4 separate regions of the Homo sapiens genome follow, and all the other regions are linked to region 1. The links come from fine-mapping of genetic effects on gene expression. A gene starts in region 1. Each other region holds a variant in brackets. All regions are shown on one strand. Distances are between the middles of the regions.

Region 1 (5,596 bases):
AATGAATATTTTATATTTACATTGAGAATTTCAACTAGCTTCTGATCAATTTTTAATAAAAAATTTTCAAATCATGTTAGCTGTTAAAAAATGTATAATAACTCAGTTTTTCTTGGTTTATGGAAATATCTATATTAATGTGAAAATAATTAATTTAGAATTGTGATTAAAGTGAGCATTTGTCTATTGCTGTTGTACACTTCTTTTATCTAACGTATATTTTTATAGTGTCATATACCAGCCCCCTAACCTGCCCCACCTGTCCCCTTTTTAAAAACATATTTTCCAGTTACATAGCACTGAGGTACTCTATTTGGTGTAGATCAACAATAAACATAAGAGCCTACTGTATATTAGGTACTGATATAATTGATTAATCATCTGGCACCAGCTCAATAACCTGTTTTTGCCGTGTTCTTTATAGTTTATCAGGGGATTTGAAAATTACCTCAAAGTATGTTAAAACCAGCCTGGCTGAAAGCACTGATACCTTTATGTTGCCAAACCCAGTGTACAATTTTCTCACCTAATCTTATACACCCTATTCATTATACTCTGATGAAAACATTTGATTTCCTTGGCTCATGTGACACATTTCTTTGTCATTTCTTCCCATCTCCATGCCTACTCTTCATTATTTTGCAGCTTTCTAATCTGTTGTGTCACCTTTACCTACTTGTCTTACCAGTTTCATGTTCTATGCAAACTCCAGGGGTCACTTATGTGACAGTGACTGCCAAGTCAGGGTCTGTACCCTATACCATGCTCTTGACAACAGAACCTGTGGATGGTCCACTGACAATTTGATGTAGCAGATCAGTTGTTAAATTCAACGTCTCCTCCTACCCCTGACATCTCTCCTGTGTTTTCTGTTGGTAAATGAATGGCACCACCATCACTGCAGGTGCCAAAGGTGTCATCCTGGGATTGAGTCTTCTCTCGACTTTCACATCCAGTCACCAAGTCTTACTCCATTTCCTAAATTTCTCAAAACTACTCTTCCATGTGCTCTCCCTTACTCTGAAACATCATCACTCACTATTTCTAACAGGCATCCTTGCCTTGATTCTTAACCTACTCGGGCCTACTTCCATTGTTATTGCCACAGAGGGTTTTATAAAATAAAGTCAGCATGAACACCCCTCTGCAGTCTGCACATACACACCTTACCCTGGTCGAGTTCATAGCCTACTTGGTGTCTGACTCCCCCTTTCCTGCTGCTTCAACCTTGTCTCTGCCCACGTGCAACTTTGATCCCTGCCCCACTAAACTGGGTGCTGGCACAATGGTACCAAGCTTTTCTATGGCTCTGGCCTTCAGAATAGGACTTGCCTCCTTTACGTAGACAACTACTGCCTGTCCTTGAAGACTCAGATTCAACTCAGCTCTTTCAGAAAGCTTCATTTGAATGTCTTTTCTGCCTGGACCAGACTGTGCACCTCCAGGTCAACCTACTGCCACTCAATTACAAATTTCCCTTTTCATGCTTTCTACAATCTGGTGCAGAGTAAGCACTCAAAAAGTGTTCAGCTGATATATGGATTTTACCCAGAACTTTTGCTATGTACTTACTTTTTTTCTTTTTCTTTTTCTTTTTTTCTTTTTTTTTTTTTTTTTTGAGATGCAGTCTCGTTCTGTCGCCAGGCTGGAGTGCAGTGGCGCGATCTCGGCTCACTGCAACCTCCGCCTCCCGGGTTCCAGCGATTCTCCTGCCTCAGCCTCCCAAGTAGCTGGGACTACAGGCACGCACCACCACGCCCCGCTTATTTTTGTATTTTTAGTAGAGACGGGGTTTCACCATGTTGGCCAGGATGGTCTTGATCTCTTGGCCTCGTGATCCACCCGCCTTGGCCTCTCAAAGTGCTGGGATTACAGAAAAAAATGTCTAAATAGAGACAGGGGCGGGGGGGTCTCACTACTTTGAGCAGTTTGGTCTCGAACTCCAGACCTCAAGTGGTCTGCCTAGGCCTCCCAAAGTGCTGGGATTGCAGGTGTAAAACCACCGCGCCCGGCCAGAACTTCTGTGATGTAATTCTGATAACCACATGCTTCGCTTGAAGAAGGGGAGAGAGTAGGGATAATTTCATGTGTCCGGTCTGGGCAACCAACTTTAAGTTCTTTATGCTGGGATTTTGTTCAATTCTTGCCCTATACTTTAAAGAACTGGGGCAAGAGAATGCGAGTAGGAGGACGAGGAGTATGTTCTTCAGGCTGCTACTCTGCAAGGTGGTTTGGGACCACAGCCTGAGAAAGCCCTTCCAGCTCTGGAGTCATAAAAAGGGCGGGAGCCGTTTCTATAGCGACGGGAGGAGGGCGTGGCCGTCCCTTGCCCTCTGCCGGGCTCTCACAGCCTCCCGCAGCGGCGGGCGGTCAGCGCCGGCCTCATGCAGCTCCTCCCGCCGCCTATCCGCACCGGAACAAAGTAAGGGCCGCGGAGGCTCGTACTTCACGAGCAGTCAGGCGCGAGTACGAGGCAGGCGACGAAGCTTCTGGTCGACGGGGTCGTGGGGGGAGAATGAAAAGCGTGCAGAATGCAAGAGCTGACCGGGGAATGTGGGTCAGAGAGAGGCGGGCTGTGGTGCGCGGACAAGAAAATACAGTTGTAGTTTTTGCAGCAGCTGCATCCCCGGAATCCGACGTCAGTATACTTCCATGTTAAGATGCTGTCGCATCGGCGACTCCAGCTGAGTGCAGGACAGGGAGCGAGGGGTTCTGAGGAACTCAGCAGACCTATCCTGGAACTGTGCTTCCAGCCCTCACTGGGACGCCAGACTTTCTTCCTCCCTTTCTTTCTCTTCTTTACTGCATGTCCTCTTGGTAGTCGTAAGTGGGTCCACGACCACACGCCTCGCGTGGATGAGGCTCTGGCAGGCATTACTCATGTTCCCACCCAGCCCATATGCCCGGGCACCTCTGTGCTCAACCAGGGCCCAGCCCCTGACACAAAAGCGCGCGAAGGTGTGTGTAGATCACACACCCAGAGCTGCCACTCAGGAAATTCCCAATATTAGCAAATCTTTCCTTAAAAAAGAGATGAACAATGCACAATTTGAGGGTTTTTAAAGGCTATTCTGTGACATTTGCTGCATTTGAAATGTCCAGCAGCCCCTCAAAGCTTAGGAAAACCGTGACCCCTCTGACATGTCTTAAGCAACGGACAGCATCACCAATATTAATTCAAGCTTCACTGTCCAGGCTTAAGTGGAGACTCGGCAAAAGCAGGAGGCCATTTAGTGGAAAAGTTCAAACCGTGGAAACAACAAATGAAAATGTCCTTTGTCTTGCTTGAGCGATTTGATCACCTACATGTGGTCGGTATGTAAAACCTAGGAGTTCGAAGAAATTCTTCAAACATGCACTCTACCTTATTGTTTCTGTTACTTAAATCTGTTGTTTCTCTTGTTTGTTTTGGTCCTTATGGAGAAAGCAGAGGTAAATCGGAAGGGACTCTCTAGCAATATGCCAGCCACTCTTCCCTGACTTTGCCCTCTCCAACTCCACATATTGTTGCCTGCAACTTGGCTAGAATGCATAGTCCTCAAGCGTGTGGAGGACCCAGTGCTGGGATTTAGTGGTTTTAGCTGACTCTAAGCCCATCGTGAGTGTGTTGTGATGGCTCCCCAAAGAGCAAATGCTGGTGGAGGCTGCATTCATAGAAATGCAATGACCACATCAAAGAATATGGTCGTGCTGCCTGACTTAGCAATGAGTAGAACATAATCCAGACTCTAGAAACTGTAGCTACTTTGAGATCACAAAGAACTGGAAAATAGGAACAACCACAAGGCAGGCTCTCTCTGTCAGGCCTGGGTGTGCCATCACATGAAGAGAGGTTTGAAAAAACTTCACAGAATGCCTGGAGATGAGGAGATGCAAGGGAGAGAAAGCTTTTTTCTACTCAACTTTTGAACATTCAAGAACTCTTGAGTAGAAAAGAGATAGATTTGTTCCTTGGTACTCTGCAGAGGATAGCAAGGATCAGTGGAGGAAATTTTGCTCAATATAGTTTATTCTTCCAAGAAATATCAAGTACCAACCCTATGTAAATTAACAGTTGAGTGTGAAATGGGTTGCCTAGAAAAACAGTGCACTCTGTCATAGAAATATTCCAGCATAGACAGAGTGATTGCCAGGAATACCATAGAAAGAGGATTCTTCCCCAGGGTGGGAAAATGGATGACATGGTCTCCAAAACCTCTTCTAGCTCTTTAGAGTCTGGGAGTCAGTGAACCCTCAAGAGTCTCAGGGATATATGCAGAGGGTCCAAGGAATTCTCTGGCAGAAATGAGTGTGACTTAAAATACATTTAGATAGAAGAAATAAGACCTAGTGTTTAATAAATCAGTAGAATGACAATAGTAAACAATAATCTATTGTATATTTCAAAATAGCTAGTAGAGAATAATTTGAAGCCCTGACTTGATTATATATTATATAAATATAAATATACATCTATTATATATCAATTAAAAAATGAATGTAACTTAAGTTCATTAAAAACATTATCACCTGTTCACAGAATGCAAACGGAATCCCTGCAAACCCTGCACTGCCATACTTTCTGCCCCAAAGACAGCCCCCAGGGCATAAAGATCAAGCTACTGGCAATTGCAGTAGAAATCCTAAAATCATAACAGGTAAATCTCAAAAGACTTGTTTCCTTTCTGGATATTGAAGTACTCTATACACAGATGATGTGTATATATTAATATAAAATACTATGCAGTGCAGTAAGGCTGGCACCTCTGTGGATCTGCCTTAACCTTGAGTCTTCGAACTCCTTGAAAACAAGGCTTCTGTTTTATTTATCTTTGAATCCTCCATGCTTAGCCCAGTAGCTGGCACACAGTTGATGCTCTGGAATTTTTTGATGAATTAATCTATTTTAGATTTCTCTTCCCTCAGCAAATTTGTACCAAGTTTTCAACAGACAAGTCACTGTCCTTACCCCAAAAGGAATTTTTTAAAAATGCAGGATCACCATCTATGTCTCCAAAAGACTAACAATCAATATGAGACAAAAAATATATGCACCTAAGATAATTAAATGACACTAAAGCTCTTGACCAAGTGAAAAAATGGTTTCTTAGGCAAACACACGATTGAACGCTCGAGGAAAGAGAGGAAGGGGAAGGAGAACTCCGATCTGCATGTAAGATGAAATGAGAATGGCCAAACTTTTGGTTTCAGTTCTCAAAGGAACATTCACTCTAGCTCTGAGCTGAGTTTATTAGTTATCTTCAATCCTTCATGTAACAAGATACAAACGAAATATAAAAAGCAGTTTAATTCTTTTCCACATAGCTCACCACATATTTTGAGGATAAAAAGGTAGCATTTGCAAAGCTTTGAGCAAGGGTTAAGTTGTACTGTTGGAAGCCAGAGTTCATGCATAAAAAAAGAAAGGCACAAAATAGTCTTTAATAATCACAGAATTATCCAAGGGATGGCAAAGTTGGAATAAGTCACAAGAGATTTTTTTTTCAGTCTGTCAGTATTTTTGTAGAATTAAAGAAATTTAGACCCCAAAGGGACTTTAGAAGTCACCTGCTCCAGTCTCCAGTCTCATTATTTTGCAGATGAGGAAATAGCACAG
Region 2 (5,596 bases), 46 kb after region 1:
TATGCTTTCACTTGAAAGCCATCTTGTTTTGGAAATAAATTAGACAAAATAGAAAAATAACTTTAAAAATTTTAAATTTTACATTTTAGGATTTTCCCAGTGAACAAAGATATTTTGTGTGCAAACACCAAGCTAGCTGGCTGGCTGGCTATCTATCTATCTATCTATCTATCTATCTATGTATCTGTATCTATCTATCTTTGCCAAATTTCTATTTTCCAGATTGTCTCAAAGTTACAGAGAAACACATATAGCCTTGAGAATGACTAAACATAGATAATTTCATTTCATGATCGAAACTAATAATAAAATATTAAAATAACTTAGGTAAAAATAGCTGTGGTGGAATGAACACTGGCCTGCGAGTCATTAAACCTGGGGTCTTAGTCCTGGCTCTGTCTTTTTGACTAGGCATTTCCCAGCTCTGGACTATAAAATGAGGGGAGCAGAGAAGATGGCTTCTAAGGTTGATAATGAATGATTTTATAAAGCATCCCCAGACCACTCCTGCTTCCAATACCAAAGAGAACGGGGCCTATGTTTCAAATTTCCTACAGCCCCAGAACTGACTCAGCTTCCTCTTGACCTCAGTGTCAAAGGGTCTGAGGAACAGAAGAGCAGGATAATGGATGGATTATGGGTGGGAACCGAGCAGCAAGGGCAGGTGACCCACACTGTAATTTCCTTATCTCTGTGTGCCCCTCTAAGTTGCAGTAGGAAAAGATGAACAAGTAGGTGCTACACTTTTCTTTTCAAGAAGGTATTTTGTCTTATAATTGTCTGATGCTCATCCGGTGATTTTCATCTTTTCTTCTCCCTTTCCAGTGCTCCATGGTGGGATATATCATTCTTTAATTCTGACATGGCAGCATGTGTACTAGTTTATTTGCTTTGACAATGACATCTGGCTGCTATCAAGGGTGGTGGCCCACCCCTAGTTGGTGCTGATGTTTGTGTAGAATAACATGGCCAGTGTTGATTCTTAGGATATGAAACCAGCCCTGGATTAGGAGTTAAAAGGCCCAGGCTCTGGGTTTGCTCTGCTACTGACCAGATGTTATTACTTAATGCTTTGAATCCTTATCTGTAGAAGGCAAAGCTTGGCCAAAGTACGCTCCACCCCTCAGCCTTTGAATCTGTGCTCCCACAAAGAATGAACCAATTGAATTATCCTTATTAAGGTGCTGGGTCTGCCGCCAGCCGGCTTCATTCAGACAGCCTCCAGGAGACAGACATTCTTTGGTAAGTCCTAGTGTGTCTCATGAGGTGTCACAGGCCTTGAAGACACCTGCCATACCTTAAGGCTCATTTCATTCTTTTCCCCTGGCCACATACCAAAGGGCTGTGATTAAGAGCGTCTTTCAGAGAAGTAAAAGATAATGAGCAGGGGAATCGGATAGCATGTTGGAGATGGGATGGGGGAGTCACAGTGGGAACAGGGTCTTGACAGTAAAAATGCTCAGGAGGAGGAGAATAGCCAGGTCCCTGCTCAGAAGAGCTATCAGCAAATATTGCAACCTCAAAATATTGTAACTGCATCCTCTCCCGGAAGTTCTCCCCACTCTCCCAAGCAACTTGCCCTCTCACACTATGCACTGTGCAGGGAAATCAAAGAGCAGAAGCTTCATTTCAAGAATAGTGGAAAATTCCATTGCTGCATTATTGTTTCCCCTGCTAAAATTCTTCTTATCCTCCAGACCTTACTGTGCCAGGTTCATTGCCAATGGTTAAGCAAGGACTTAGTTTTGCTTTGATGTGTTGTGGCTGGTAGTTATGTACGTGTCATCTGTCTGATTGTTGGGAGTAAACTTCGTCCACAGTCCAGGCTGCCCCTCTCCTCATAATTCCCAGAATTCTGGATTTTTATGATCCTCCGCCTTTCTATTTAAGTGGTCCTATACAAGATGGAAGGATGGGTCGACAAGGTATCAACTGAGGCAGGGCTTTCAACGTACACGCACCAAAAAGATGCAGCAAATCTCATACCTAAAATCCCTTTAAAGAACCACAGGAAGCTAAGAGTCCCAGATAGAAACAGCCAGAGTGGGCTGAAGGTCAGCAAAGTGGAGCAAAGCCAAATAGGAGGAAAAGGGAACTCCACAGACAGGGACTCCATGCTACCTGGAGTGACATTTCTGACCAGCCATTGTTGTCAGGTCGGTTCATGGACTCCCTCTGACCACACAATCCCAGACATTCCTGGCCCTCCCACCTCTGATTTTCAACTGCGAGCAGCTTCTGAATATGTATGCAAATCACACAATTTCTGTTCACAACTTGCTCCATCAGTAGGAAGGTCCAAAACACTCTCGTGGGGAGATCCTTTAGGATAAAAGGGTTTGGGTCATGCTGGTCAGTATGAACTGATTCAGCCATGTGGGGGTTATAATTTGTCTATTTCTGTACCATTTGGTAAAAAGCCACAGCCCTGAGCCCTGCTACAACTGCAGGCTCCCTGGCCCTCTCCCAGGACTCCTTAAACTCTCCATGATCCAAAAACCTAAAAGCTGAAGGCCAAGCAAGCAGAAGTTCTCTATGATCCTACTCCAGTGCCAGGGCTGTCTTCCATTCTGATTAGTTGGTTCCATGCCATTCATTCCAATGGTTAATTCTTTTAAACATCATCTGGTAATCATGGCTGGAGCTTTGGAGACCTTGCCTCTGAGCAGGGCAGTGTCCTGGTTGCCATAGAATGGTGACCACACATTAACCGAGCAATCTGGCGGTAGGCAAAGGATCTGGCTGGCTCCCCAGTATAATTTACACATGGAGCACGCGAACTGGTCTTTGGATCCCAAATATACTTTTTCTAC[C/T]CACAACTTAATAATTCAGCCTTTTGGATTAGGCAGAGTCACTGTGGGAAGACATATCTTGAGCCTGTAACTCTGAACTCATGAGATAGCATCTAGGTGGGGACTAGCAGGAAGGGAACACAGAGCACCTTCGTAGGAACGTACTAAAGACATAGGCATGTCTACTTCATAGAGTTCCTTATTTCTACCATCAGCACTAGGCTTTAGGATGGTGATGGGGTTTTGGCAGCAATATCCATGTCTTCACTTCCTGTGAAAGAAGGAATGTTGCTGAGAACTGCATCTTCGTCAGTGTTTTCCAAACTCTATCCAAATGTAAGAATCATTTGGGGACTTGGCAAAAAAGCGAATTCCTGTGATTCTCTTCTATAAGCTATGCTATGGGAAGATTGCGATAGGACCCAGGATTCGACGTTTTTAATGACGGCTCCTTGTGATTCTTATGACAAAATAAGTTTGGGAAACACGGTTGTCCACTTCAGTTCTTGACTGTTCCTTTCCCAGGTTTGGGCTGCCAACTGCTCCTCTGCCCCGGGCGACTCCTAGTTAATACCCCTAATTAGCAGCAAAATGGTGTTGTCTCAAGGCTGGTAAGATATTATACTTAGGTGGCCCAGGTGGCTCAGGTAGTAAGAAGGGGATGGAGGGAATGACTGATGAGGGCCAGAGTGAGAAAAAACAATTACATGATCATGACTTTAGGAGCTTTGTTATTGATAAGACTGTGAGCTTGATTCTTCTTTGGTCATTGGTAAAAAGGACAATGTAGGATGAAGTGGGAGGGCTAAGGCCATGATCCAAAAGGAAATGGATATTTGTACAATTTCACAGGACCTTGTCACTTAACATTTACTTTACCATTGTCATTATTATCATTAGCATTATTATTTTATCTTGGTTGGTGTTAAGCCATTTAAATTATTTCTTTGATTTGGAGAGGAGGCAGTGGGAAGGAAGTTCAGAACATACTGAATAGTAGGAAAAAATCAATTTTTAAAGTAAATTGCATTCCTTGGGTAATCTACACATGGTTATTTCAAACTGAGTGTGTGTGTGTGTGTTTATTGGGGTGTGGCATGAGGCGAGTGTGTAAGACAGAGAGCAAAAGAGCTACAGAGGCCACTCTAAGCAGCAGCATCATGTGACCACTAAAGATTTACACCTGAAACTAAATACAGAATGTTCTATCTCTACAGATTCCAAAGGTTTTCCTAAAAATATAACCAACAACAGGGGGAAAAAAAGATACCCAGATTCCAAGGACCTCACGATGGTGCTGAAAACCTATGACACCAGCTTCCTGGACTTTCTCAGAAGGTGTTTGGTGTGAGTTTGTTGGGACATCTCTGCTTCTGGGTTTCCTCTTAAATGCTGTACTTTGACACACGTTTGCTGGTGAAAGACTAAGGCTGGGAGATAGTTATAAAAGTAACAAGAAATGCTAACAATAGAGCTTTAAAGTCTACAAATTGCTTCCACATCTGTTGTTTCATCAGACATCTCTCCCTACTGTGTGGTTGTCAGGGCAGATGATTTGCTCTGTTTTGCACGTATGGAGGTTGGGGTTCAAAGAGATTAAGTGACCTGCCCTGGAATACACAGCGTATGGTAGAGTTTGTCATCTTCCTGGCCTCAAACTGCCTGGCAGTGAGATTGTTTGCCAGTCCTAAATGTCTTCTGCTCTGTGAGCTGAAGCCAACCCCCTGACTGCTTGTTGTAATGATTTGCATACACATCCAGTGTAAACTGGTTTCAGGGCCTGTCCCCCTCCCCCTAGGATTTAGTACCCAAATCGTCTTATATTAGGGAATTAGGGGGAAGGTGAGCTGTAAACCATTTATTATGTACAACTTTTTATAATCTATATGCATATTTTGAATCTTAGAAATTAGATCTGTACTTAAGTCGTAGTACCCAGCACAGCACCCAGTTTAAAAGGTGTTTAGAAAACGTTAGCTATTCTTATTATTTTACGACTATTAAAGAGGTAAATCTATCTCCACAGAGTGGCAAGTAGATTATCCATGTGATACTTGGCAAGTCATCACTTTTTTCTGGGCCTCAGTGTTCTTTCCTATAAAATACGGTATTCCTAAGCTCCCTTCCAGTTCTATCAGTCCTATAATTTAGTATTTTTAGAAGACCATATCATTACAGTCTCTTATTCTTCCAGTTGGATGGAGTGATGTTATCAAAATACTCTTCTGGCATCTGTGCTCTCTGGAATTTCAGTACTAGCTCAGAGGGTGAACCATGAGGTAATGATGAAAGTATTCCCATCGTAGGGGGTCATGCTATTCACTCATCAGAATAATCAAGGTAGGGAAGGATCCTGTACCCCATCTTTACCCCTACCTTAACAAATGACAGAAACCAACTGCTGAGACAGATGGGTTATCCAGAAACCTCAACCATCCAGAACACAGCTCAGCACCAAGGAAGGCATTATTTTCTTCTTTAGTGCAAAGGACTGATTACTCATAACTTGCAAGAGGCAGTCAGGCTGATGGGGACTGTTATCTTATATATATATATTGCTAATTAGAAAATCTTTGAGACTAAAAGTTTTGAGCCAAGTTCAATAGGCATAAATGTAAAGCCCCGTGTCTAGACTTTGTAGGCGAACTCCAGAAGTCCAGGAAAGGAGAGATGTTGTTTAACAGCAATTCATTTGACACAGAAATGAGAGTTTGAGCTGTTTTAGGACCTTAATGAGTCTAGAATGTTAATACTGTCTCCCTGCAGTTATAGAAGCTATTCCCACCATGATGGACACCAGTTAG
Region 3 (4,000 bases), 62 kb after region 1:
TTGTTAAAATGGTCATATTGCCCAAAGCAACTTAAATGTTCAATGCTATTCCTATTAAACTACCAATGAAATTCTTCATAGAACTAGAAAAAACTATTTTAAAATTCATATGGAACCAAAAAAGAGCCTGCCAACAGCCAAGGCACTCCTAGGTGAAAAGAACAAAGCTAGAGGCATCACATTACTCAACTTCAAACTATACTCCAGGACCACAGTAACCAAAACAGCATGGTACTGGTACAAAAACAGACATACAGACCAATGGAACAGAATAGAGAGCCCAAAAATAAGGCCACACAGCTACAACCATCTGATCTTTGACAAAGCTGACAAAAACAAGCAATGGGGAAGGATTCCCTAATTCAATAGGTGCTGGGATAACTGGCTAGCCATATACAGAAGATTGAAACTGGACCCCTTCCTTACACCATATACAAAAATCAACTCAACATGGATTAAAGAGTTAAATGTAAGATTAAAAACTGTAAAAACCCTAGAAGAACACCTAGACAATACCATTCTGGACATAGGAACCGGCAAAGATTTCATGATGAATACACCAAAAGCAACTGCAACAAGAGCAAAGCTTGACAAATGGGATCTAATTAAATTTAAGAGCTTCTGCACATCAATAGAAACTATTAATAGAGTAAACAGACAACCTACATAATGGAAGGAAATATTTGCAAACTATGCATCTGACAAAGGTCTAATGTTCAGCTATAAGGAACTGAAACAAATTTGCAAGAAAAAAACAACCCCATTAAAAAGTGGGCAAAGGACACAAACAGACTCTTTGCAAAAGAAGACATACGTGTGGCCAACAAGCATATAAAAACAAGCTTAATATCACTGGTCACTAGATAAACGCAAATCCAAACCATAATGAGATACCATCTCACACCAGTTAGAATGGCTATTATTAAAAGTAATGGCAAGGATGTGGAGAAAAGGCAACACTTATACACTGTTGGTGGGAGTGTAAATTAGCTCAACCATTGTCAAAAGCAGTGTGGCAATTCCTCAAAGAGCTAAAAACAGAACTACTGTTCAACCCAGCAATCCCATTACTGGGTGTATATCCAAAGGAATATAAATTGTTTTACCATAAAGACACATGCACGTGGATGTTCACTGCAACACTATTCACAATAACAAAGACATGGAGATAACCTAAGTGCCCATCAATGGCAGATGGGATAAAGAAAATGTGGTACATATACACCATGGAATATTATGCAGTCATAAAAAAGAACACAGCCATTTCCTTTGCAGGAACATGGATGCAGTTGGAGGCCATTGCCATTGGCAAATTAACTCAGGAACAGAAAATGAAATGCAGCGTGTTATCAGAAGTGGGAGTTAAATGATGAGAACACATGGACACAAAGAGGGAACAACAGACACTTGAGGGTGAAGGGTGGGAGGAAGAAGACACTCAGAAAAAAATAACTATTGGGTCAGTACTAGGCTTAGTACCTGGGTGACAAAATAAGCTGTACAACAAACCCGTGTGACATGAGTTTACCTATATAACAAACAAGCACATATACCCCTGAACCTAAAATAAGTTAAAAAAAGAAAAATGGGCAGAAGTTATGACAAATTAATCCACAGAAGAGGAAATTCAAATGGTCTTATATGCAAAGATACTCACCCTTATTCCTAATAAGACAAAAAGTAAAGCAACTTAGCAAATTAAAAATTTTAGCATGCACTGTTGGTTAAAGTGTGAGGAAATAGTCCTCTTACACTGTTTTAATAGGTGTGTTAATTGGTACAAGCTCTATGGAAGGCAATTTGGAAACATGTATCAAATTACACAAATAATATTCTCAGTGACCTTGAAGTTCCTTTCCTAGGTGTATAGCACATGTGAATACATTTGAATCTGTGCAAAATTATGTATATTCAAGGATATTCAGTGTAGCATTGCTTACAGTGCAGAATAGTGGCAACTGAAATATCCATACATAAGGGAGGGGTTAAATATATAAAACATATATAAAACATATATGATATATGAAATGGCTTCATATATTATAAAATATATAAAGCCATTAAAAAGAATGTGGCAACTCTATATGTTGCAGAAGAGGATATATATATAAAAAATAATAATTTGTGACTTTA[CGTGTGTGT/C]GTGTGTGTGTGTGTGTGTGTGTGTGTGTGTGTGTGTGTGTATTGCTGGAAGGATAAATAAGAAATTGATCCAAACAATTTTTTTCTCCAGGGAAGGCAATGGGATGGAGCACACAAATGAGAAAACAACCCTTAATTTTCACCATGCATCCTTTTGTACTTTTGAATTTTGAACTATGCACACATATTATTTATTCAAAAATAAATACAAATGTATTTAAAGACATCGGGCTCACAGACATCCCAGTGACAGCAGGTTCAATCACCTGAATCAGTATGAGAATATTTGCATACATTAATCTCTTTTCAAAAAGTCATTTTTAGGTAGTTTCTTTGGTGTCTATGTCATCCCTGTTCTTAAAAATATACTAATATTCAGTGCGTCTATTTATTAGTTGAAGTTTGAACATGCTGCTTCTCATTCCTTCTACTCTTAGAGGGAGTCAATAAAATAGATGACTGGCTTTATCTTTAGAGTAGACAAAGGTGTGTGTGTGTGTGTATATAAAAGTGGGGGACTGCAAGTCTATTGTCCTATTTTAGATACATGTTTCAATTTAAAATAATCTAAAACAACACATTCCAATACAAAAAAAGTCTAAAGCCAGAATGTATTATGTATGTTATATATGAGGGGTTTGATTTCAAAGATGGCTACAAAAGGCTTTCTCACACATTACACACCTGAAAGCTATGCTTACTTTTAGATTTTTTTCATCAGTTTAAATTTTCTTCAGCATATAGCCTCCCACTCCCCACCTCTACTAATTGCTATATACTGTAAAATAGTTGTCTGTTTCACGGATTGGAAACCCTGCGTGGAGACAGAGCTTGCCAACGACCCTTAGGAATAGATCTAATATTGGAAGTTCACACTGTCTTCTAGCCTAACTTGAATGTGCACACAACTCACCTGGGTATTTTGCTAAGATGAAGATTCTGATTCAGTAGGTCTGGAGGGAAGTGTGAGATTCTGCACTTCTAAAAAGCTCCCAGGTGATGCCAATGTTGTAGGTCCACAGACTACACTTTAAGTAGCACGTGTAGTCTTTTTAAGACCAAAGTCAAAGACCATACAGTTTCTTGTTTAGGCTTGATATAGCCTAATCTGGATGCTCTGTAATCGTGTGTTTTCCCAGTCATCAGATAAATATAGCGACCCAGTTGCAAGCGTTGCTAATACCATGTAAATACCACTTAATTAAGCAGAGAAAGCCTGTTTTTCCTTATCTTCTGATTCCTATGATGATGAAATTTTCTAAATAATTCTAGCCTCTTGTGCCACCCTTTGCTACTTAATGATTAACAGCAGTTGGTCCACTTTTCTCAATCAAGAGGAGACAATCAAAAGCACTGAGGAAGAGAAAATGAGAGAGAGAGAGAGAGAGAGAGAGCAAGCGAGCGAGAAGGCAGAGAGGAGAGAGAAGAGAAGGTTGTAGGGATGGTCTTTTTAATTCCCGCACTTCAGTGTGAAGCATCTGGGGTAAGTGTGCGTGTTCTCCAGACTCAAACCCTCCCTTTGGCGCGCAGTTCTGATGCTTACTGGGCACCTTGGGTGGAGGACAAGAACTTATCAGGCACGTTTACCTTTATCAGTAATAACAGTGATAAGTTGATTTCCCATCTACCTTATGCTTTAGTCTTACTTGTCAACTGATTCAGAGCTTAGGGTAGGGGGAAGAGGGGTGTTATCCACTGAATCCTTTCAAATCCCCAACGCCACCTAGACAACCAGCTAAGACAGTAATGGCATGTTTGAAAAGGTCATAAATTCAGACTCTGCCTCTTCCCTAACACATCCCAGGGCTACTTTCCAGCTTCATCTCATCCTTTGAGCAATGCTGTCCTATCCAAAACTC
Region 4 (5,596 bases), 28 kb after region 1:
AAATGTTTACAGAAGTGGGTCTGATACCAGCTGTGTGTCAGCTTTGGATAAACATCCTTCAACTCCATAGGGGAGGTCTGGAAGAAGGAGGAACCCTGGTTTGGCTTCAAAGACCAGAACTTCGATTCAAGCTCTAGCCTGTTGTTTGCTAAACTTCAGTCATTTGAGGGCCAGCTTTACAGTTTTTGCCATGCCTACGCCTACATAGTCCTCACACTCTGTTTTGTTTTATTATTGTTTTTTGTAGAGACAAGGTCTCTATCTGTTGCTCAGGCTGGAGTGCAGTGGCACGATCATAGCTCACTGTAACCTGGAAATCTTGGCCTCAAGTGATCGTCCCACCTCAGCCTCTCAAAGCACTGGGATTACAGGTGTGAGACACCATGCCTGGCCTTACTTTTTTTTTTAACTTAAATTTTAATCTCATCCTACATAATAACAACCACAACGTTACAAGTTCAATGTGCTTGTTACAGTTTTTCAAATGGATATTACAGTAAATCCATACCCATTAGATAGCTCTTTATCTGCGTACTGTACACATTACGTCCTCTTCCTCTGCGGGGTGCTTGCCGCCCTCTGGGACACACTGCTCTAGTATTTTGGTCTTCTTCTCCTCACCCTTCTAGGCGTGAAGTCTCTTCTGATCAGGGCACTGGTGTCCAGGCTGGGTGCCTGTGTTCCACTGGGTGGGTTCCACTATGCCACCTTCAGAGCCACACTCAGGGCGAAAAGACTTCCAGGCAAGGCAATGGCCATTTTCTTTTCTAAAGAGCAAGAGCAGCTCAGCTGTTACTCCTTACCGTAAGCAGGGTCTCTAGTTAAGATTTTGTTGGAAGAAAAGGCCATATTGATTTTTTTTAAAGCATGAAAACCATAGGCCAAGCCCATCCAGGATGAACACTTTGGGAAAGATCATTTGTTTGGATAATCATCCATTCATACATTCATTGAGTACTTATTGGAGCCTCTCTTGGCTCTTCCCAGCTAAGGATTCAGGAGAGCTGGCCTCAAGCATAGTTTGTTTATTGTAATGTAACAAAAATATACAGTGTGGGATAAAGCCATGCCAAGCATTGTTCCTATTTTCTTCCACTTGATCCAGGTTGGAAGTAAACTTTCGGTTCAGATCCAGAAGCCACCTTCCAATATCAAGAACTCCAGAATGACCCAAGTCTTTCATAAGGTAGGGAGTGATGGTCAGCTCCTTTTCTCTAGGAGAGAATGAGGAGAGGTGGGTGGCCAGGGTAGCTTTGAACAGACAGTTTTGGCCAATTTATCATAAAATGTATCATAACATGATGACAGCACTCTATCCACGTCACCACACCCCATCTCCACATCACCACGCCCCATCTCCTCCACATGATTTTTAAAAATGTTTTTATTTTAATTTTTGTGGGTATATAGTAGGTACATATATTTATGGGATACATGAGATGTTTTGATGTAGATATGCAATGTGTAATAATCACATCATGGAAAATGGGGTATTTGTCCCCTCAGGCATTTATCCTTTGTGTTACATACAATAAAATACAATTAAATTACTATTGATTATAGTCACCCTGTTGTGCTATCAAACATGAGGTCTTATTCAGTGTACGTTTTTGTACCCATTAACCATCCCCACCTCTCCCCTGACCACTACCCTTCCCAGCCTCTGATAACCATCCTTTTAATCTCTGTCTCCCTTAATTAAATTGTTTGGATTTTTAGATCCCATAAATAAGTGAGAACATGTGATATTTCTCTTTCTGTGCCTGGCTTATTTCACTTAGCATAATGATCTCTAGTTCTATCCATATTCTTGCAAATGACAGGTTCTCATCCTTTTTTATGACTGAATAGTATTCCATTGTGTTTAAGTATCACATTTTCTTTATTCATTCATCTGTTGATGGACACTTAGGTTGTTTCCAAATTTTAGCTCTTCTGACCTCTCTCCTGATTAATCAGTCAATCAGTCAGTGCAGGAGGCAGGGATCCAAGTGAGTAGGTCAAGTCAATAATGTAGTCATAGAGGAAATTGAAGCTTATGTTGCACTGAGGAAGATTTGTGTGATATAACAGGAAGAACTTCCCTGCGTTAGGGTGGTAAGATATTGGAGTAATAATAATAATGGCCAGCACTTACAGAATACTCTCTATATATTGACTCATTTACCTCACAAAAGCCTTATGAGGTAGGCCCCATTTTTGTTCCCATGGTAGTGATGAAATAATTGAGGTTTCGAGAAAGAGTCAGTGTGAGCTGTTGAAAGCCTGCAGCTAGTAAGTAGTAGAGCAGGGACTCAAACCCAGAGCCCATGTGTTTGTTGACTCTGCTGCTCTGGAATCTGCATTTCTTGCCAAGAACTTTAAGAATAGGTTTAGGTCCAGATTGGGGTTAGGCTCATTCTTGTTGGGGAATTGGGAAGGGAGGCTGGAAGAAATGACCCCTGGAGACGTTTTCTTGCCTAAGGCTTTTGTAACACATGCAATTTCTCCTTCTACAGAACACCAGTGTTACTTCACTCCCCTTTGTGGACACCAAGGGGAAGAAGAATACGGTAAGCTTCCCACACATTAGCAAGAAAGTCCTGCTGAAGTCATCCCTGCTGTATCAGGTGAGTGCAGACGGACTGGACCCTGAGAAGGCAGGTGAAAGACCTGGTTTTAGTCCAAAGCCAGTTTTAGAAAGGCCCAGGATAGTGGGGAAAAGCACAGTAGCTGCTGAAGAGGTGGGTTCTAGTCCTGTTCTCATTCTTTACAATGACTATAAGCTTGAGCAAATAAGTCCTTGACCTTTTCTTAGCTACAAAATGGGCCCTCTCTAGAGCTGTCAGGAGGATTCATTGAGGAAAAATGAAGTGCTGGTACATAAAAGGTGGAACCATACAAAATATTAGTTTCCTCCCATGTCCTCCTACTTCTTTTGTGTAGGGACCAAATAAGATAATAGGTGCGAAGGTGCCAACTGAAAGAGGCGTCACACACACATAAGTCCATGTGCTCCTGGGCAAGTCACTTTGTCTTGTTGGGAGCTCACCTTCTTAAGAGCAGCAGTGAAAAACTGTTCCCATCTCTTCCCATAGTGAGATGTTGCTGGGGTTGTCAGCAGCATA[C/T]GGTAAGGTACAGGGGTCTCCCCAGGAATAGTGTCAGTCAGACAGATGCTTCCTTTGGGAGAGAGGTAGGGAGAACCTTCTGTCTCTTAATCGCTGTTTTCTCCCTGGAGAGGTAGGTAAAGAGCCTGGCTGAAGGTGGGTGTCTTTGGTTAAATAAATGGTTTATGGCCCCCAGGAGAGTCCTAAGTAGTTATTTATTGCAAACCTCTTTTCCTGGACAGGAGAATCAAGCTCACAATCAGATGCCGGCCTCAGAGCTCAAGGCTTCAGAAATACCTTTCCACCCTAGCATTAAAACCCAGGATCCCAAGGCAGAGGAGAAGTCACCAAAGAAGCAAAAGGTGACTCTGACAGCGGCAGGTATGCCTTTGGGGCAGTAGCAGGGTGGGGAGGTGCTTATGGAAGGTCGGGGTGTTAAGAGCTAAGCTGCGCTGGAGTGAGCTAAGCTGCCAGGTGTCAGAGTAGTCAAAGAAGGCAGCCAGCCAAGAGGAAAGTAGAAGTTAAGCGTTGAACCTCTGACTGTGGTAGTATAAGCAAGAGGCTGAATAGGAGGCTGAATTTCCCCCAAGGAGTGGCTCTGGGCAAGGGCGGGATGTACCAATGCAGACAGAAGGAAGTGTCTCATTTGCCTAAGGAGCCCAGACACAAGGCTCCTGTCATTTTATGGACCCAGGGGCCAGCGGGAAGGCACTGAGAGAGTGGAAGAGCCAGGAGTGGAAAGGTACTGAATACTGAGAGCAGAGCAAAGGGTGCTGAAGCTTGCTCCTTCCTCTTGATAAGGAGGTGTTGGAGAGGAGCCTCTGTAGGGGGATCTTGATTAGAAATGCAGACATGTAGAAGAGCATGGCCAGCCAGGGGTCTCAGTCCTTGGCTGTAGCTTCCTCCAGAGATTGCAATGCATTGGCTGTGCACCAGCTCTGGTGCAGGGAGGGCAGCTTTGCCCGTGAGGCTTGCCAGGTGAAGCCTTTGTGGATTGCCTTGTGGTCAGGCCTGAAAGATTACACATGGGTTTTTGGCCAGTAGCTAGACTTTTAATGGGATTCAGAGACTCATAACCTATTAGGATGCAAAGGAAGAGAGCCCAAATCCACCGAGCATCCACTATGTGTGCCATCATCAGACACTTTACAGCTCTTCTACCACAGCTTAGAAACTGAAATTGGTGCTTGTTGTTCTTAAACAACTCCGGGAACTATGCATGAAGAGGTCATTTCAGTCCTGAGCTAGTTCTGCCTTCACAGAGCTGCCATCTGCCCCCCTGCTATCTTATGCCTTGGCTCTGTCCTCTGGGCAAAGAACATGCCTTATTCAGCTTATACTTGACTGCCCTTCACATATATGAAAACAGAAGTCTTGTTCCCTATAAGTCTTTTTCTTTTTCCTTGCAGTTCCCTCTCTAGTGCTTCAGCAGTTTGTCAAATAATATGGTGCCCCCTATCCTAATCCTAGTTTCTTTTCTCTGAGAATGCTCTAGTTCATCAGTTACTGTGAATTTTACCCCTGACCACGCACGAGAGCGCCAATGTGATCTGGCTGGTGTAGGGAAGTCCTAACTCATAATCTCTTCTTGCAATCTGAGGTCCTTCCTGATCCAGCTGCAGATTTGAGCGTGAAGCCTCCTGGGCCTTTAATGTTGCCTTTATGTTACCTGTCTGGCCCTGCAGACATTACAGTTCTCAAAGCCTCTCAAGACGGACTAATTATAGCTTAATTCCACGTTAACTTGGGCAACTTGCCACCTAAACTATATACTATTGTCGACACTAATTTGACTCCTGGAATTTTTACCTGCGCTGCTCTAACCCCCAGGTGTTTGGGAACTGAGCTCTCTGTTCCCCTGTCCTTGTGTTCCTTTCTCGATTTGTTGAAATAAATACAAGACCTTGACATTTATTCTTGTCATACTTCCATCTTGTGAGATGCCAGATGCAGGGTCCTCAGTGAGCCACCCAGCTGGGGAACAGGCTGATGGCTCGTGACCTGGAAGGGATGCCATCGTCTGCATCCGGGGCAAATCCCATGCTGCCTCAACTGAACTCACAATTGTAGTGTTTTTCACACAGAGGCCCTAAAGCTTTTTAAGAACCAGCTGTCTCCATATGAACAAAGTGAAATCCTGGGCTACGCGGAGCTGTGGTTCCTGGGTCTTGAAGCCAAGAAGCTCGACACGGCTCCTGAGAAATTTAGCAAGACGAGTTTTGATGATGAGCATGGCTTCTATCTGAAGGTGATGGGGGTGGGGGCCATGGGAACCTGCAGGGGCCCAGGGACAAGAGGTAGTCTAGAAAGGAAAAAAGCAACGGTATTTTGTAGTATTTGGGGCTGATACGTTGGAGACTAGATATCCTGAAGTATTCTGGTAGTGCCAAACCAAGGAAATACCATGTTTGAAAATGGGGAAGCATGCAATTTAGTATGCAAAATACTCTACTAATGGAAGACTAATTTTCCCCCAAGCATAGTTGGGGTAGCCGGTTTGCATCCTGGGT

Alleles and levels. Alleles are on the strand shown, and positions count from the first base shown. SD is a standard deviation of normalised expression in the study named. Not every link is listed here.
For the expression in naive CD4 T cells of the gene that starts at base 2,347 in region 1, C is the high allele of the variant in region 3 and CGTGTGTGT is the other (large effect, 0.80 SD a copy in Schmiedel 2018).

Evidence for each region. PIP is the estimated chance that this variant, and not a neighbour inherited with it, causes the effect.
Region 2: its variant is the best candidate, but not a certain one, in a credible set for the expression of DYRK4 in cerebellar hemisphere (GTEx, PIP 0.73).
Region 3: its variant is the best candidate, but not a certain one, in a credible set for the expression of DYRK4 in naive CD4 T cells (Schmiedel 2018, PIP 0.71).
Region 4: its variant is the best candidate, but not a certain one, in a credible set for the expression of DYRK4 in T cells (TOPMed, PIP 0.85).

The regions. Positions count from the first base shown.
Region 1 is chr12:4,559,862-4,565,457 of GRCh38, forward strand. DYRK4 (dual specificity tyrosine phosphorylation regulated kinase 4) reads left to right here and starts at 2,347. Exons shown (of 15, transcript NM_001394779.1): 1 at 2,347-2,422. The coding sequence starts at 2,385. It overlaps RAD51AP1 (RAD51 associated protein 1), which reads left to right. Exons shown (of 9, transcript NM_006479.5): 9 at 1-186. RefSeq lists a silencer at 2,182-2,476.
Region 2 is chr12:4,606,146-4,611,741 of GRCh38, forward strand. DYRK4 (dual specificity tyrosine phosphorylation regulated kinase 4) reads left to right here. Exons shown (of 15, transcript NM_001394779.1): 12 at 1,182-1,242; 13 at 4,010-4,139. Among named protein-coding and RNA genes, the nearest start is that of AKAP3, 40 kb to the right of the region's middle. The variant C/T (reference allele first, on the strand shown) is at 2,814.
Region 3 is chr12:4,622,183-4,626,182 of GRCh38, forward strand. The region is part of intron 5 of AKAP3 (A-kinase anchoring protein 3); the gene reads right to left. Among named protein-coding and RNA genes, the nearest start is that of AKAP3, 25 kb to the right of the region's middle. The variant CGTGTGTGT/C (reference allele first, on the strand shown) is at 2,134.
Region 4 is chr12:4,587,832-4,593,427 of GRCh38, forward strand. DYRK4 (dual specificity tyrosine phosphorylation regulated kinase 4) reads left to right here. Exons shown (of 15, transcript NM_001394779.1): 3 at 1,106-1,186; 4 at 2,499-2,609; 5 at 3,329-3,467; 6 at 5,171-5,334. Among named protein-coding and RNA genes, the nearest start is that of DYRK4, 28 kb to the left of the region's middle. The variant C/T (reference allele first, on the strand shown) is at 3,108.